Regions from separate parts of the Homo sapiens genome. Here region 1 is linked to region 2. The links come from fine-mapping of genetic effects on gene expression. A gene starts in region 2. The other region holds a variant in brackets. All regions are shown on one strand. Distances are between the middles of the regions.

Region 1 (8,520 bases), 22 kb before region 2:
AATTTTCATGAATGGGTATTGAATTTTGTCAAATGTTTTTTTCTTCATCAATCAAGATAATTATGTGAATTTTCTTCTTTAGTCTGTTAATGTTGTGGATAACATTATTTGATTTTCAAATACTGAAGCAGCCCAGTATCCCTGGAATAAATCCCACTTGGTCATGGTATATAATTTTTTATACATTGCTTGATTCAAGTTGCTAATATTTTGTTAAATATTTTTGCATCTAAGTTCATGAGAGATATTGGCTAATTTACATTTTTAAAAGATCACTCTGGTTTCTTGTGGAGAACAGACAGAAGAGTGAGAATGGCAGCTGAGAAACTAGGTAGAAAGCTAGTCAGAGTGGTCCAGATGTTATCCTGGATTACAGATATGTCAGTAGAGGAGATGTCATTGGAGTCAAGATATATTGTGGAGGTACAATTAATTGAACTTGGGCCGGGTGCAGTGGCTCACACCTGTAATCCCAGCATTTTGGGAGGCCGAGGCATGCAGATCACCTGAGGTCAGTAGTTCAAGACCAGCCTGGCCAAATGGTGAAACCCTGTCTCTACTAAAAATACAAAAATTAGCTGGGCATGGTGGCACAGCTACTTGGGAGGCTGAGGCAGGAGAATCGCTTGAACCTGGGAGGTGGAGGTTGCAGTGAGCCGAGATCCTGCCACTATACTCCATCCTGGGCCACAGAGCAAGACTCCATCTCAAAAAAAAAAAAAACAGAGAGAGAGAGAATTAATTGAACTTGTTTTGCTGTTGGATTAGCTGTGGCTTGGTGGGAAGGAGGACTGGTGAAGGAAAGGGAAATATTAAGGATGAGGAGTACCAGGGAGAATAGACAGATTCCATTCAATGAAATGGGAAAGGCAGGAGGGGGAAAAACTGGGCAGGGCGATGGGATGTAAAAATCAAGAGTACGGCCGGGCGCGGTGGCTCACGCCTGTAATCCCAGCACTTTGGGAGGCCGAGGCGGGCGGATCACGAGGTCAGGAGATCGAGACCATCCTGGCTAACACGGTGAAACCCCGTCTCTACTAAAAATACAAAAAATTAGCCGGGCTTTAAATCTTCTCCCTAGGACAAAATTATCTGACATTTTCATTTGTCTTCTTTATGACTTAGATTAACATTAATTTTACAGCTTTACTGATCCAAGTGTTGGCCTTGGACTAGCAGCAAGCATGGCTTTACCTTGGAGCTTGCTAGAAATGCAGACTATCAGGCCCTGCCCCAGAACTGCTCAATGAGAATTGGCTTCTTATGACCCCCAGGGGGTTAAGAAATGTTTAAGAAATGCTGTTCTAGAGCACACTGCCTCTTGTTGGCTCTGAAATAAAAGAAAAGTATCTTAATTATTGAACTTGTCATTATACCACTTCCTTAAATGAGCCATCTTCATGGTACTCAAGCTATACTCCTTTTTTCTTTTCTAAATCATTCTTTCCATTTCATTTTCTTCTTAATATTTTAAAAAAGAGACAAGTACAAGAACTAGCCAGGCTTTCATTCTTCCCTTGTCTTAGCATAAAATGTAAATGTGCATAGTCATTGTCTCATCTGTCTTGCATAGGTGCAACTCGACAGAAGAAAAAAACCATTTGTTTCCATAAATAGGTATTTAGCATCACTTGGAATATTATCAACCTGCCCTAGGAATCTTTTATCCCATTCTAGTTTTAGATTTTCTTTTATGAAAACTTAATTCTTCTCTTTTTCTAAAAATACTTCAAGTTTTCAGCCAGGCGCAGTAGCTCACGCCTATAATCCCAGCACGTTGGGAGGCCGAGGCAGGTGGTCAGAAGTTCAAGACCAGCCTGGCCAAGATGGTGAAACCCCATCTCTACTAAAAATACAAAACTTAGCCGGGTGTGGTGGCAGGTGCCTGGAATCCCAGCTATTCAGGAGGCTGACGCAGAAAATTGCTTGAACCCAGGAGGCGGAGGTTGTAGTGAGCCGAAATCGTACCACTGCACTCTAGCCTGGGCGACAGAGCAAGACTCCATCTCAAAAAAAAAAAAAGAAAACCTTTAAGTTTTCTACAAAACATTTATTCCTTAATCACTGAATCAATATAGTTCCCTTTTTGTTCACTCCTTTATTCCTTTGACATCTAGATGCAGGATAAATCTTTAAAATATGGGTTGCATTAGCAATTCTTTTTTTTTTTTTTTTTTTTTTTTTTGAGATAGGGTCTCGTTCTGTCACCCAGGCTGGAGTGCAGTGGCATGATCACAGATCACTGGAACCTTGATCTCCCAGGTTCAAGAGATCCTACCACCTCAACATCCCAAATAGCTGGGACTATAGGCATGTGTCACCATGCCCAGCTGATTTTTTATTTTTATTTTTTCATTTTTATTTTCTTAGTAGAGACAAGTTCTTGCTATGTTGCCCAGGCTGATCTCCAACTCCTGAGTTCAAGCAATCCTCCCTCCTTGGCCTCCCAAAGTGCTGGGATTACAGGCATGAGCCACCACACCTGGTAGCGATTCTTATTTGTTGTTTTTGCTTACTTTTTGTGATGTAAGAGGAAAGAAAATAAAGAATTATCATCTTATTCTTGTTTTCCCTAATATATTTGGGATATACCATAAGACAGAATGGTTGTTTTGTGAAATGATATTTGGAAGTAATCAATTTTGTTCAGATTTTCCATTGTTATTTCATGTGACTTATTTCTGCAGGTAAAGTCTTTAATTATAATTGAATAAATAACAAGAGGAAAAAAACCCTGTTAAATCTGTAAATACCCTGAAGCAAAAAGCATAGAAGAGATGTGATAGATTATCAACCCTCTTACATTTGCTCAATAAAATAAAAATATATGAAAAGACATTTATATTTATTATACCAAAATTCTGTTGGTTAGTAATCTTCACTGAAACAAATCTTGTATTATGCAACCTAAATATCTTATATTACAGTTTAAGCCTATTTTGTTTAATGCTGTCTTTGTGGATCAATGTGAATTACTGGACAACAAAAACCTTTTAGCAAATCTTGGTTGAAAAAAGAAAGGGCTTTTTTTTTCTGATATTTCTTATCTTGACTTACCTACTTCTAAAACAATTTTCCCACTTTGATTTGTGTACAATGCTTCCATAATTTTTGTTTGTTTGTTTTTGAGATGGAGTTTCACTCTTTTTGCCCAGGCTGGAGTACAATGGCATGATCTCAGCTCACTGCAACCTACACCTCCCGGGTTCAAGTGATTCTCCTGCCTCAGCCTCCCGAGTAGCTGGGATGACAGGCGTGTGCCACCACTTCTGGCTAATTTTGTATTTTTAGTAGAGACAGGGTTTCACCATGTTGGCCAGGCTGGTCTTGAACTCCTGACCTCAGGTGATCCGCCTGCCCCAGCCTCCCAAAGTGCTGGGATTACAGGCGTGAGTCCCTGCGCCTGGCCCATAATATCATTTCTGTCTTGATTTATAATTACTCCTTTAGCATTAATTTTTCATCTTTTTTGTATTTCCAAAATTTCCCTAATACATCTGAAATAAGTATCCTAAAATGCAGCCTGTGGCAAGATGCACATTATATTTAAATATATTAATAATGATAGGGATTTTATTTCTTGTTTCTTTAATTGGCATTTGTGAGAAACATGTTCTGGTTTAGTTTTGTTCAAAAAATGGTTTCCTGAATAGTCTTTTAAGCTTAATCTCGTATTGAGGATTTATTTTATTCTATCTGGAACTATATATTGAATGCCCAATAGGGAGTGAGGGAAATGAGGCTACAAAGAGTGGGGAAACAAAGTTATTATATTTTTATTTCTTATTGTAATAGCCATCAAGAAAATATTTTAGGCTGGGTGCAGCGGTTCACACCTATAATCCCAGCACCTTGGGAGGCCGAGATGGAAAGATCACTTGGGGCCAGGAGTTCAAGACCACCCTGGCCAACATGG[T/C]GAAACCCCGTCTCTACTAAAAGTACAAAAATTAGCAGGGCGTGGTAATTTTTACATCCCTGTAAGCCCATCTATTTCGGAGGCTGAGGTGAGAATCGCTCGAACCCAGACTGCACTCCAGTCTGGGAGACAGAGTAAGACTCTGTCTCAAAAAAATTTAAAAAAAAGAAAGAAAAGAAAATATTCTAGGTCGGGGCTGGTGGCAGATGCCTATGATCCCAACACTTTAGGAAGCCAAGGCAGGAGGATCACTTCAGTCCAGAAGTTTGAGACCAGTCTGGGAAGCATAGCAAGATCCCGTCTCTAATTTAAAATAATAATAAAACGAAAACATTCTAAGCTCTGTTTATTTTATGTGTAAGTAAGTTTCTAACAAGCTTAAAGTGTGTTATGTTCTAATAAACCAAACTTACTTGGCAAAAAAGAAGAAGAAGAGCACAGGCTAAATAAAACTCTGCCTCTTCCAGCCTTGCTTGCCATCCTGCATTTTTTTGCTTCCCTAGTCTCTTAGGTGCGACCTCAAAATTGTCCTTTAGATCTCTGAATGGATATCGTTCTTTTCACTCAACCTTGAGTTCCTTTCCGGGCCTTGATCTGCATTTGCTTCTCAAATTGCATCTAGCTCCTTCGAGTCCAGGTAATACCACAGTTCAGTTGAATATAACCCTGGTGACCCTAACCCAGAAGCTCCACTGGGTTTGTTCCAACTCCAACAAAAGGAATAAACTTTCCATTCCAGGCTTACATATCTTCTGTAGAATGTGTCATGTAACTAATTTATGCCTTACCCTTCCTTCGAAGTCCTACTCAAGTCCTAGCACCTCCTTAAAGCCTTTCCAATCATTCCAGTCATTGCTAAGTGTTCCTTCCTCTCATCTCTTATAGCTCCAATTGTCCATAATGTTCATTTCTTTTATTTATGTACATTCCACAAACATTAATTGAGTACCTACTATCTGCCAGACACTGAGCAGATACAAGGACGCTGCTGTGAACAATGAGATGCAGCTGCCACCCCAATGGAACTTGTGGGCTAATAGAAGACACAATATGAAACAAACATTTACGCAAGTATACACTATGTATGTGTGTGTGTATAGATATAATATATACACAAATATATAAATATAAATATTTGTGTGTATGTGTATATTTACAAATCAAGGTAAGTGCTATGAAGAGAAAGTATGAAGCATTCAGAATAGACTTCTCTCATTTATTTTTTTCTGTGAATATTCTAGTTTAATCATCAGCTCCTTGAAAACAGAGGTCATCTTTTATGTCACTTGGTTAAGCTCAGAATCTCACTCATAGTAGAGGTGCAGTGAGTTTTTATTAAGGATGATAGTGACAATGAACACTGTTGTTTGGGAATGACTCTTAAGTACCAAGAGCTGAGGAAATGACACTTCTCTCTGTATCCCTGCAAAACGAAAGCAGCCTATGAAGCGCATTCTTATTGCATTAGTTTCGAACACAAGAAACCACTTGTTTGTGTTTTATCTCTGGCAAGGATCTGAAAATCGTTTTGAAATTCCTACTTAATTATCCCAAATGTACATGCACTTCCATCCTGTCTCCAAATTACTGATTTTTAGGATTGAGCCCAGTGGTGTGCTGGTGAATGTTCAGCAACTAATTCTCTCAAATAAATAATTGACAGATTTGTGGCATTTGCTGATTTCTTTTGGTTTAAATACTCCCATGGCCAATTTGAAGCCATCAACATACTACTACTAAACTTAGAGATGGGAAGAAATGCACAGTAACACATTTTAAAAATACCATACAGATACAGTAGACATAAATATCCCCAAGAGCATAGTTAATAGTAAAATGTAGCATTTGAGTATTATTTGTGATGGTGTTTGAGTATTTATTATCTTTTTGTATGCACTTCATTTAATTATAAGTTCATATAATTCAATTTTTTTTTTTTTGAGACAGTCTTGTTCTGTCGCCCAGGCTGGAGTGCAGTGGCGCAATCTTGGCTCCCTGCAAGCTCCGCCTCCCAGGTTCACACCGTTCTCCTGCCTCAGCCTCCCAAGTAGCTGGGATTACAGGCATGTGCCACCACACCCGGCTAATTTTTGTATTCTTAGTAGAGATGGGGTTTCGCCATGTTGGCCAGGCTGGTCTCGAACTCCTGACCTCAGGTGATCCGCCGCCCTCGGCCTCCAAAAGTGCTGGGATTACAGGCGTGAGCCACTGCACCCAGCCTATAATTCAACTTTTAATAATGTCTGTTTATCAGCTGGCTCACAAAATTCCTAAAAATTTAACAATTGGCTCCCATGAAATGGCTTCCTACTGACTGTGCAGCTTAACACACCCCTATATGTTCCAGATGGGATCTGACTGTGCTCTACTGGGTCTTTTAGTTACACAAAGGGGAGAAAGCAAAGTTGACTCTTGCTAACTGACCACCAACTCCAACTCCCTCCCCAGCTTTGCAGAACAGCTAAGAATTACACTGAAAGCTTCAGTGTAGCAAATATTACAAGTTAGATGACCCAAGACCCATTCTTGACCATTTTCTCCCTTGGCTACCTCTATTTACCAATATGCCTGAAGAAAAGGCCAGGAGAATTGAACAACTATTAGCCATAGGTTTAGTGGGCTCCCAGACTAAAACCAAACCCACAGATTCCAGATTCCAACATCAGACTTGTGAGGGAAAAAGATTTTTTTTTTTTTTTTTGAGACAGAGTCTTGCTCTGTCATCTGTCATCCAGGCTGGAGTGCAGTGGTACAATCTCAGTTCACTGCACCCTCCTCCTCCCAAGTTCAAGCAATTCTCCTGCCTCAGTCTCCCTGGTAACTGGGATTATAGTCGCACATCAGCACACCGGCTAAATTCTGTATTTTTAGCAGAGACGGGGCTTCACCACGTTGGCCAGGCTGGTCTCAAACTCCTGACCTCAGGTGATCCACCCGCCTCAGCCTCCCAAAGTGCTGGGATTACAGGCGTGAGACACCAGGCCTGGCCGATCTTCTTTCTTTATGCTCTTGTGTTGAGTTTTCTGTTATTTACAGCCAAAGCTATTCCTACCCCATACACACAGGAATTTTACGTCTTGTAGCTTCTATTACCCCAAGAGCTAGAAAGGGAATAAGAGGAAAGGCAACTCATATGCCAAGCATGGTGCTGGGTGGTTTCCAAGCTTCATCCTCTTTAAGTTTCACAACAACTTTATGAGAGATGACATTTCACAAAAATGTGTCATTTATTATGGTTGGTCATAATTTCTGTTCTTAAGGACTATCCCACAGCACTGAAGTTATGTGGACTTTGAAAAATTAATTTCAGCATAAATGTACAAAGGTTTGAACACTTATCCTTCTTCAGCAAATTAAAAATACATCACACAGACATTTCCTTGGGGTAAATTAGACAAGAACTGCATACTGCCAAGCAACCAAGGTTCAGTTAACAACACACTGGAAACACCTTTCCTTTTGTCAAAGTTTGCCTGGGTTTCAAGGAGATTAAGGAAAAGGTTGTCCTCCTCGGGGCTTGGTGGCATCCACTGAGGAGGAGGAGGCAGTGGCACTTTCTTTGGTGTGGGCTGGTCCTCTCTTAGGCAGGCCATAGACCTGTGTTTCCCAGGAGTCTACAACTCTCCCAGCGAGAGTCAGGAGGGAAATGAAGGAGAAAGTACACTTCCAGGGCTCAATCAGCCAGTCCACCAGGAGTTAGAAGTCCCTGAGCCTTCATTGTATATGGACACAGGAGGCTTCCCTGGTATGAGTCAGGAGGACTGGGAAACTACAGAAGGTGGTGAGGGACAAAAGACAAAAGGAGAGTCAGGGTGACAGAAGCCACATCATAGAAACAACAAACCACAGAGAAAACAAACAAAAAAAACATGGACTTTGGAGTCAGACAGATCTGACTTCAAATCTCAGTTCCATCACTTAACTAGCTATGTTCCCTGAGACTACTGTTTTGTCTAAGCTCCTTTCTGGATTTCTGAAAACACATCTCCTATGCCACAAAGAGAGTGTGAGATTGAGTCTAAACCAATCACGGCGTCAGAAGCATTCAAACCAGAGCGACTCCATCTTGAATAGGGGCTGGGTAAAATAAGGCTGAGACCTACTGGGCTGCATTCCAAGGAGGTTAGGCATTCTTAAGTCACAAGATAAGATAAGAGGTCAGCACAAGATACAGATCACAAAGACCCTGCGGATAAAACTGGATTGGGGGGGTGGGGGGCAGGGGAAGACAGCTAAACCCCACCAAAACCAAAGTGGTGACAAAATTCCTCATTGCTCATTATATGCTAATTATAATGCATTAGCATGCTAAAAGACACACGCCAGCATCATGACAGTTTACAAATGCCATGGCAACATCTGGAAGTTACCCTATATGGTCTGAAAGGGAGTAGAACCCTCAGTTCTGGGGTTCTTCCCTTTTCCAGGAAACTCATGAATAATCCACCCCTTGTTTAGCATATAATCAAGAAATAACAGTAAAAATAGCCAACCAGCAGCCCTCAGGGATGCTCTGCCTATGGAATAGCCATTCTTTTGTTTCTTTATTTCCCTAATAAACTTGCTTTCACTTTACTCTATGGACTCACCCTGAATTCGTTCTC
Region 2 (8,000 bases):
GTGGCATCACGTCACCACTCAAGTTTTCAAATTTTGGGGGCTGGGCATGGTGGCTCACACCTGTAATCTCAGCATTTTGGTAGGCCAAGGGAGGCAGATCACTTGAGGTCAGGAGCTTGAGACCAGCCTGGCCAACATGGTGAAACCTCGCCTCTACTAAAAATACAAAAATTAGTTGGACATGGTGGCAGATGCCTGTAATCCCAGCTACTCAGGAGGCTGAGACAGGAGAATTGCTTGAACCTGCAGCAGAGGTTGCAGTGAGCCGAGATGGTGCCACTGCACTCCAGCCTGGGTGACAGAGTGAGACTCTGTCTCCAAAAAAAAAAAAAAAAAAAATTCAAATTTTGGGCTGGGTGCAGTGGCTCACACATGCCTGTTATCCCAGCACTTTGGGAGGCCGAGGTGAGAAGATCACTTGAGCTCAGGAGTTTGAGACCAGCCTGAGCAACATGGTGAAACCCCATCTCTTAATAAGAAGACAAAAAAGAATAAGAAAATACTTTTTTTTTTCAGATTTTGGAGCATTTCAGATTTCAGGTTAGGAATGCTCAATCCATATCTCTCTAGAATTCTATACTCCACTGGCTTTTAATTCCTCCAAATTGCTTTATTCTCACCCACAACAGGACCTTTGCACATGTTGTTCCCGTTCTTTGGAACTTTCTCCCTTCATTTCATATTCCTTTTCCTGGCTTTCCAACCTTACGTCAGATTATAGTTTGAACGTCGTCTTCTCTGGGAAAATTTTCAGTTTTCCTAGACTTGGTAATTACCCCCACAGAGGGCAGAAATTTGCCCCTTATATCCTGAAATTCCCCCATCAAAGCGTCTATCATGCTTTATGACTATTATTTGTCTATTTCCCTTTATTATAGACAGTAAGATCCAAAGGGGTAGAAATTGTGTAATGTTTTTCTCACAATTGTCTCCCTAGTCCTCAGCCTGGCTCAAAGTAGATATTCAATCTATAATTTGAAAACTTACTTATTAACAGTAGAAAACCCTCAGTCTTCAAGATAGTTCATCATACCTTACTTCTCTATGTAGCTATTTTTTTCTTTTCCTTTAGAACCTTTCTAGAGAAAGATGTATGGGAATTGAATGTAATTTAAATTTTTAAAAATCCTCTCAACATTTTCTAGATTTTACTGCAATAAAAATAAAAATGTAAATGAAAAGTATGAATATTCATATCATAGGCCCCACCCCTGCTATCCCAATTCCACAGTTTAAAGTACTCACTTGCTTTCTTCCATGCAAAAAAGTATGATTATACTACTCGCATCCTCAAATGACACTCTGCCTTTTCAGTCACTCCAGGATCCGGTTCCAAAATGGACTTCCTTGTTTTTTGTGGCCTTTTGTGGCTCCTTTCCAGTTTTTATCACAGACTTTGTTTTTCTCTGCTTCCTTCTCTGCTTCCTCTTCTCAGCTAAGCACAGCTTCCTCTGTCATGTTCTATAAACCTGCCACCGTTGATGAGTCTTTTAACGTGCCATCTGATTCAGTCGGCTCTTTCATGACCTTTTAGGTTCTACCTCAAATTTTAGTGGCAAACAATTTTTTTGTTACTTGTTACTTCCTCTCTCCTTGTAATTCATTTCTTAGTAATTAACTCTTCAAACACAGGGCAGAATTGAATGCCCTCACTTTGCCATCATCTAATTTTTGTCTGTGCGAAGAATAGTACCTGGCACCCAGTAAATAGAATCATTTTTATTCTATTTATTAAATTTATTAAATATATTATTTATTGAATAATTATTTATTTATTGAATAAATTTATTCAATTTGTTGAATAAATTCCTCAGCATGTACCTTATGACAGCCTGCTTACATCAGTTTAGATTGCTTTGTTCTTCATATGTCACAGATAAACATTTAAAACTTCATTGTGTACCTGGAAGTTGATACTTAATAAAAATTTTATTTCAATATGTACATTGTGACCCAAACCAATTATAGGCATTCCTTCTTGTCATTGTTGTTCAGAAGTGTGAGGTTTCCTTTTGTTACTTTTAATTAAAAAATTGAGACTTTATTTGCTTTGGATATGAGGCCTAGGCTTTATAATGTCGCCTTTAATGGAAACAACAAATACAGTAACTTCATTTAAAAGTAAACAATAGTGACAAATTCACCCTGTAAATCAAATTGCTGGTATTTATAAACACAGGTGGCAAGTTACTAGGTACGAAGGGTTCGTGGTCCAGGGGAAAATATGCCAGCAGAGTGCAGAGACAATGTCTAGGTACCGGCCCTAATTTAATATTTGGTGTATGTAAAGATCTTCGTGAGTGCTGGGCTGGCAACAGCAGGGGTTTGATGGGATGAAAAAGTAAGGTTAGCTGGATTTCAGGTTCAGGAAGAAACCAGGATGAGGACATTAGAAGATGAACTCAGCAAGTATGTAGGAATAGGCATAGGAGATGAACTCAGCAAGAATGAAGGGATATCCGAATCTTGGGAAAGGGTGGGAAAATAACCTAGAGAACTATGGATTGAAGGAAATTGAAGAGGAAAAATAGCAAGGACTTAGGCCCAGGACGGCTTTGAATGCGGCTCAGCACAAATTCGTAAACTTCTTAAAACATGATGAGATTTTTTAAAAGTTTCATCAGCTACCATTAGCGTTAGAATATTTTATATGTGGTCCAAGACAATTTTTCTCCTTCCAATGTAGCCCAGGGAAGCCAAAAGATTGGACACCCTTGGCTTAGATGGTGGAGTCAAGGGAACTAAAGATATGACCCCAGTGTGCCAATGCCAAAGGTGAGAAGAGAAAGCAAAGAAAGCAGGCCTTTAAAGAGGTAGAGGAATCCTCAAAGGTGGAAAGAAACAGGGATAGGATGCTGCCCAAGAGGCAGGGACAAAGAATCGGAGCCAAAGACTGCGGTAAAAATGTGGGAAGGTGATGTCCACGATGTTCGAACGAGTCCGTGGCCGAAGGAAGTAAGAGTCTGGGTTTCTGGAGGTTTTCATACAGAGAACTGGGATTTAGATTTCGGGCTGGAAAAATATATTTTGGACTCTCAGGGGCTTTCAGGGTAAGAGTTCGGTAGAGTTCAGTCAGCTTGGCGGAGACAGGTAGTCAGTTAATGTTGGAAGGAAAATTCGGACAGCTGGGAATTAATTTCAACGGGTTTAGGGTGATTTCGGCAAGGGCTGGCGGGGCTAGGGTCGAGTGTGAATTTCGTCTTGGGTGGTCCACGCGTCTGGTTTGGGCAGGAATTTCTGTGGGCAGCGAGGCGTATTCAGGCAGCGTTGCGGGTGAATCTGCGTGGGATGAGGGTGGATTTCCTTCAGGACTGCGGTGCATTTCAGGCCGGGGTGGAGGTGCCTCACAGCCGCGGCGCAGGGAATTCCCTCTAGGATGGGGGAGCGGGTCGGGCGGCGCCGGCCAGGGAGGGGAAGTCCAACGGGGGTTCGGAGAGGCTCGGGGGACTCGGACGGAGAGAAGCCGGGTCGCGGCTGCGGAGGCTCGGCCGGCCAAGGGATTTCCGCGACGTTCAGCGCTGCGAGCTGCGCGGCGCTGCGGCCCCTCCCGTCCCGGGGGAACCTGTTGCCGGCGAAACAGGCGGGCGGTGGCGACGATGGAGAAGCCTTCCTCGCCTCTGCCTGGCTGCACGGCAGCCCTTTCACCTTAGGCACGCTCCGCGGCGCGGCCCCTCCCTCCGCTCCTTCGTTTAAAACAAACAGAATACGCCGCCGCCAACCCTAGCCTGCCAACGGCGAGCACGGTCGCCTCCCGTGCCGCTTCCGGGAGCCGAGGCGCGGCCCCGCCGCCCGGGGAGGAGGAGGCGGAGGGGGAGGAGGCCAACATGGCGGCGCGCAGGGCTGGGCCGGGCCGCAGCCGCGCCTGAGCGCCTCACCGCACTAGCTCGGCTCGCAGGACCCAAGCCCGCACCCAGCCTGGCCCGGCTGCTGCGGAGCACCCGGGGCAGGAACGCAGGGGCCAACCTGGGCGCGGAGGCGGCGCGGAGGGTGCGCCGCGCGGCCCGCCAGGCCCGGGACCCGTAGCTTCGCCGTGCGCTGGCCGGGGCGGCCAGGAGGCCCAAGCCATGGAATCGGAGGAGGAGCAGCACATGACCACGCTGCTGTGCATGGGCTTCTCAGACCCCGCCACCATCCGCAAGGCCCTGCGCCTGGCCAAGAACGACATTAACGAGGCCGTGGCACTGCTCACCAACGAGCGGCCGGGCCTCGACTACGGCGGCTACGAGCCCATGGACAGCGGCGGTGGCCCCAGCCCCGGGCCCGGCGGGGGCCCGCGGGGCGACGGCGGAGGTGACGGCGGCGGCGGCGGCCCCTCCCGCGGCGGGAGCACCGGAGGCGGGGGCGGCTTCGACCCCCCGCCCGCCTACCACGAGGTGGTGGACGCGGAGGTGAGGAGGGGCAACCCCAGACCTCTGTGGGAAGCCACTGGGCTGGAGTTCCTGGGAGGGGACACACCCCGCTGGGCTTGGTGTGGGGAGAGAGGGCATTCGACTGGGGCTTTAGTGGGGGCGGGGCGGAGAGAGAGAGAGAAGCCCCAGGCTCCAGTTGGGAACCGAAGTCACTTGATTGGGGGTAAGTGGGGAGAGGGACCCATAGGAGAGGCGTGTGAAAGGGAATTAGGGATGCGCAGCGGAGCTGTGGGTTGGGGTGAGGAGGGGTCCCTTAGGCTTCCGGCTATGCACGCCGACGATGGGGAGGAGGCTCCAGGGCTATCATCCGAGATGGGAGGACAGACACTTGAGCATATAGTGGGAAGGATGCGTGCAGTAGGGGGTCGGAAATGGGGTACTAGTGCACTAGGCTAGGTCGGAGATTTTGTGGCACGAGGTTTCAGTGAAGGATTGGCGGAGGCACCAGGCTCAGAGTCAGAAAAAGCGGTGTGGGCCGGCCAGAGTAGTGGTCTTTGACAGGATCACAGGAAAACTGTTGGGGTTAGGAGTGAGGTTGGGGTTTTAGCCAAGGGTCGGAAAGGGGGGGCATTGAGTAGGATTTAAAATGAAGAGGGAAGGGGCCGCGGCCAGGAATGAGGACTTGAATAAAATCAGGTATGAGAGCAGTGGGGATTGCACTGAGAGGGCAGAGGTGGGAGGCCTGGGCAGGGGTGGGAGCTGAGGAGGGTCTAGGCAGGGATGGGGACTGGAATTGGAAGATAGAGCTGGCACCAGGTCTGGGTAAAGAGGGAGTACTGGTCATCGATAAGGTCAGAAATGAGAGAAAATTAGACCGGGGAAAGAGATGGTAGTCATACTGAGGGTGCTATGCAGAGGGGCGCGGAACAGGGTGGGAGCGCAGTGGGGGTGGAGGAGGAGTCTTGAGGCTAATGGCTTTGATCAGAGACCTCAAGTCTAGGTGGAGAAGACTATGCCTGTTTAGTTTGGGGTGTGAGCAAGGAACGTGGGGGAAGAAAACGGACTCTTCTATAATAAAGAAAAAAGATCGACCAGAAGCAGCAGTGCTTTTGAATAATTACTTTGCAGAAACATAGTAGCTCATGGCAGGAATTTTGGTCAGATTCGTTGGGTAGTTCATTTCAGGGGCCAGTAGAGCAGCTTGGCCTGACCACAGAAAAGCACAGATCTCAAATTATTGGGATTGCGTTATTAGGTAGAGATACGAATTTGGTTCGTTCTTAATGAAGAATTAAGCTTAGTGAAGCTAAGCCTTTTGAAACACTTTTTCCTGAGCAGTGTTATATCCTTTTAATTGTATGCTTTTGCAACAGTTCCTCGGGCTGAAGTAGCTTGAACAAGAAGGTGGCACTTAAAAAGAACAGGTTTCTGCACAAGATTTCTTTGGCTTCCACACTTAGACACAGTTGCTAGATTGCCCTCTGTAACCCACTAACTTAGCTGTATCGTTGACTAGTATATGGAAATAAAGATTGTTACTATTCCTAGTTTGGGAATTTTTTTAAATTCCCATATAATTGAGTAACCATACTTAAGTCATTTTAAGAAATCAGCTTCTCATTGGCAGTTCCTATCACTCCTCCCTCGTTCCTTCTAGTTTTTGACCCAGTTTTGAAATCAAGAAGAAAGCCGTTGCTTTTTCAGAAGGTGTTTGTATAACTCTGCAAAGCTCAGTGTATCCTCATTATGTGAGAAATGTGATTCTTTTTTTCTTTTGTCATACCTTTTAATTTCCTGTGATTGGAAAATCAATTTAAATTACAATGCTTGGTGCATTCATGTTAACATTAGCGCTAACCTTAGCTTACTGCCAGTACATGTAAGTACAAAGAATTGGGAGTGGCTTCTTACGTGAATGGCAGGCTAAGGAGTTTGGTTTGCGGTAAATTAAAATCCATAAAATCTCCATCTTTTCGAAGCAGTGCATCAAGTCCTCATTTCTCCTAGACCTGTGGATTTGGCCTGGGGGAGGGAAGCTGCACCGTTTACTTTTAAGAGTTCAAGAGGAGCTGGTGACTGAGGCTGCTTTACCCACGAAGCGTATTGGCAGAGGTTGGCAGGCTGAGACTTTCCTGACACACAGGAGCCTTTTGGAAACATTTAACGCAGAATGTGCCTCTGTGGTTTAATAATCTTAATGCATGCCACCTATGGAACTTCTTGGTCATCCTTGGTGTACACAGTGGGAAACTGAGGCTCTTGATCTTGGGAAATAGGGAAAGGTAATAAATATTATCCAGCATCTACAGGGTGTCAGGCCCTGTCTTAGGTGCGTTATACAGTTTATTTAACCCTTGGTGAGAGAGTTAACGTAGGCTTTTTAGGGATATGATTATGTAGTGGGTGGCAGGGGCTGAATTTGAACCCAGGTCTCTTTGACTTCAAAGCCAGTGTGCTTTTCACTCTGCTCAACTCATGGTTTTAGGATTAAATTTGTTTGGTAACAGTATGGATAGTAAGGAGAAATAATGAGGGAAAGACATATTTTAAGGCTACTGTGCAATGATGTGGTGAGCACCAACCATTAAGAATCGAATAATGGGTAGAATATAAGGTGAATCAGATTTTTTAAAAAGAAGCATACTTTAGAAATTAATAATTAGTGCAGCTCCCTTGTTTAACAGATGCACCCTTTCGGGCCCCAAAGGGGAAGTGGCTTGTCCCCACAGAGTCAGTTAATAGAAGAGGTGGGGCTAGTACTCAGGCCCTTTTGCTTGAAGTCCTGCACTCTTTCGGGCTCTCTTTCAAAGGAAAAAGGAATGGGACACAGTAATGGGTTAAAGGGAAGGAAGAAGAGTAAAAAAACTGGGTGAAGATTGTCAGCTATTATATAGTTAATCCTTTTTATTTCTAAAAACTGAGTACCTTATTTTAAATTATATACATTTCTATTTGCTGCACAGGACATTTCAGTGTCATTGTCTTCTTTAAAAATGGGAAAAACAGAATAAAATCTAATTGATTAGAAAAGAAAGAAATGACTTAAGTTTTTTTATATTTGTAGTTTGGGGATAGCAATGGTTTTCTCTTAATGCCTTCCTGTCCCAGGGGCAGGGAGTAGAGTGTTGAACAGAACGTGGTGTTTACATTCTAGTGGGTCTTAGTCCAAGCCTCTCATTTTACAAGAAAAGACTGTCCAAGGTCATGTAGCTAGTTAGGTAAATCAGTTTGAGGCCCTGCTGTAATTAGGGTTTGGTTTAAAAATTAATATTTGAACAGTGAAAGCTGTTAACTTCCGGTTCAGTAGAAGCAAGGAGAATGCAGATAAAAAAGACCCAGATATCTAGCAAAACACACAACTGCATAGAAAGCCACCTTGTTAATATCCTCCAATTAAGTAAAGATAGTGTTTTGCAGAAGAGATGTGTTTGGTTCTCACTAGTATTGTTGGATGTAAATGTTCTTGGTCTCTGGGTCTGGAAGGGACTTTGAGAAGCTGTCCAGTTTTGATTTTGAATAGCATTACTTCAAAATCATTCCACGGCACATAAGAGTCTGTTCTATTATTAAAGAGAGTGAGCTCTCACAGCTGCTCTAAATAACTTATTCTGATTTTTAACCACCCCCCTGTCAGAATTCTTCACTCTTTAC

Direction of the effects. Positions count from the first base shown, and alleles are read on the strand shown. Sizes are in standard deviations (SD) of each study's normalised expression.
For the expression in testis of the gene that starts at base 3,814 in region 2, C is the high allele of the variant in region 1 and T is the other (small effect, 0.22 SD a copy in GTEx).

What was found.
Region 1: its variant is fine-mapped to the expression of USP24 in testis (GTEx, PIP 0.94).

What each region holds. Positions count from the first base shown.
Region 1 is chr1:55,232,777-55,241,296 of GRCh38, reverse strand. MIR4422HG (MIR4422 host gene) reads right to left here. Exons shown (of 2, transcript NR_146283.1): 2 at 7,120-7,685. Among named protein-coding and RNA genes, the nearest start is that of MIR4422, 11 kb to the right of the region's middle. RefSeq lists an enhancer at 494-993. The variant T/C (reference allele first, on the strand shown) is at 3,917.
Region 2 is chr1:55,211,178-55,219,177 of GRCh38, reverse strand. USP24 (ubiquitin specific peptidase 24) reads left to right here and starts at 3,814. Exons shown (of 68, transcript NM_015306.3): 1 at 3,814-4,388. The coding sequence starts at 4,065. It overlaps MIR4422HG (MIR4422 host gene), which reads right to left and starts at 1,317. Exons shown (of 2, transcript NR_146283.1): 1 at 1,246-1,317. LOC100507634 (a long non-coding RNA gene) reads right to left here and starts at 3,770. Exons shown (of 1, transcript NR_038320.1): 1 at 1,723-3,770. RefSeq lists silencers at 3,637-4,146, 4,217-4,406 and an enhancer at 4,867-4,926.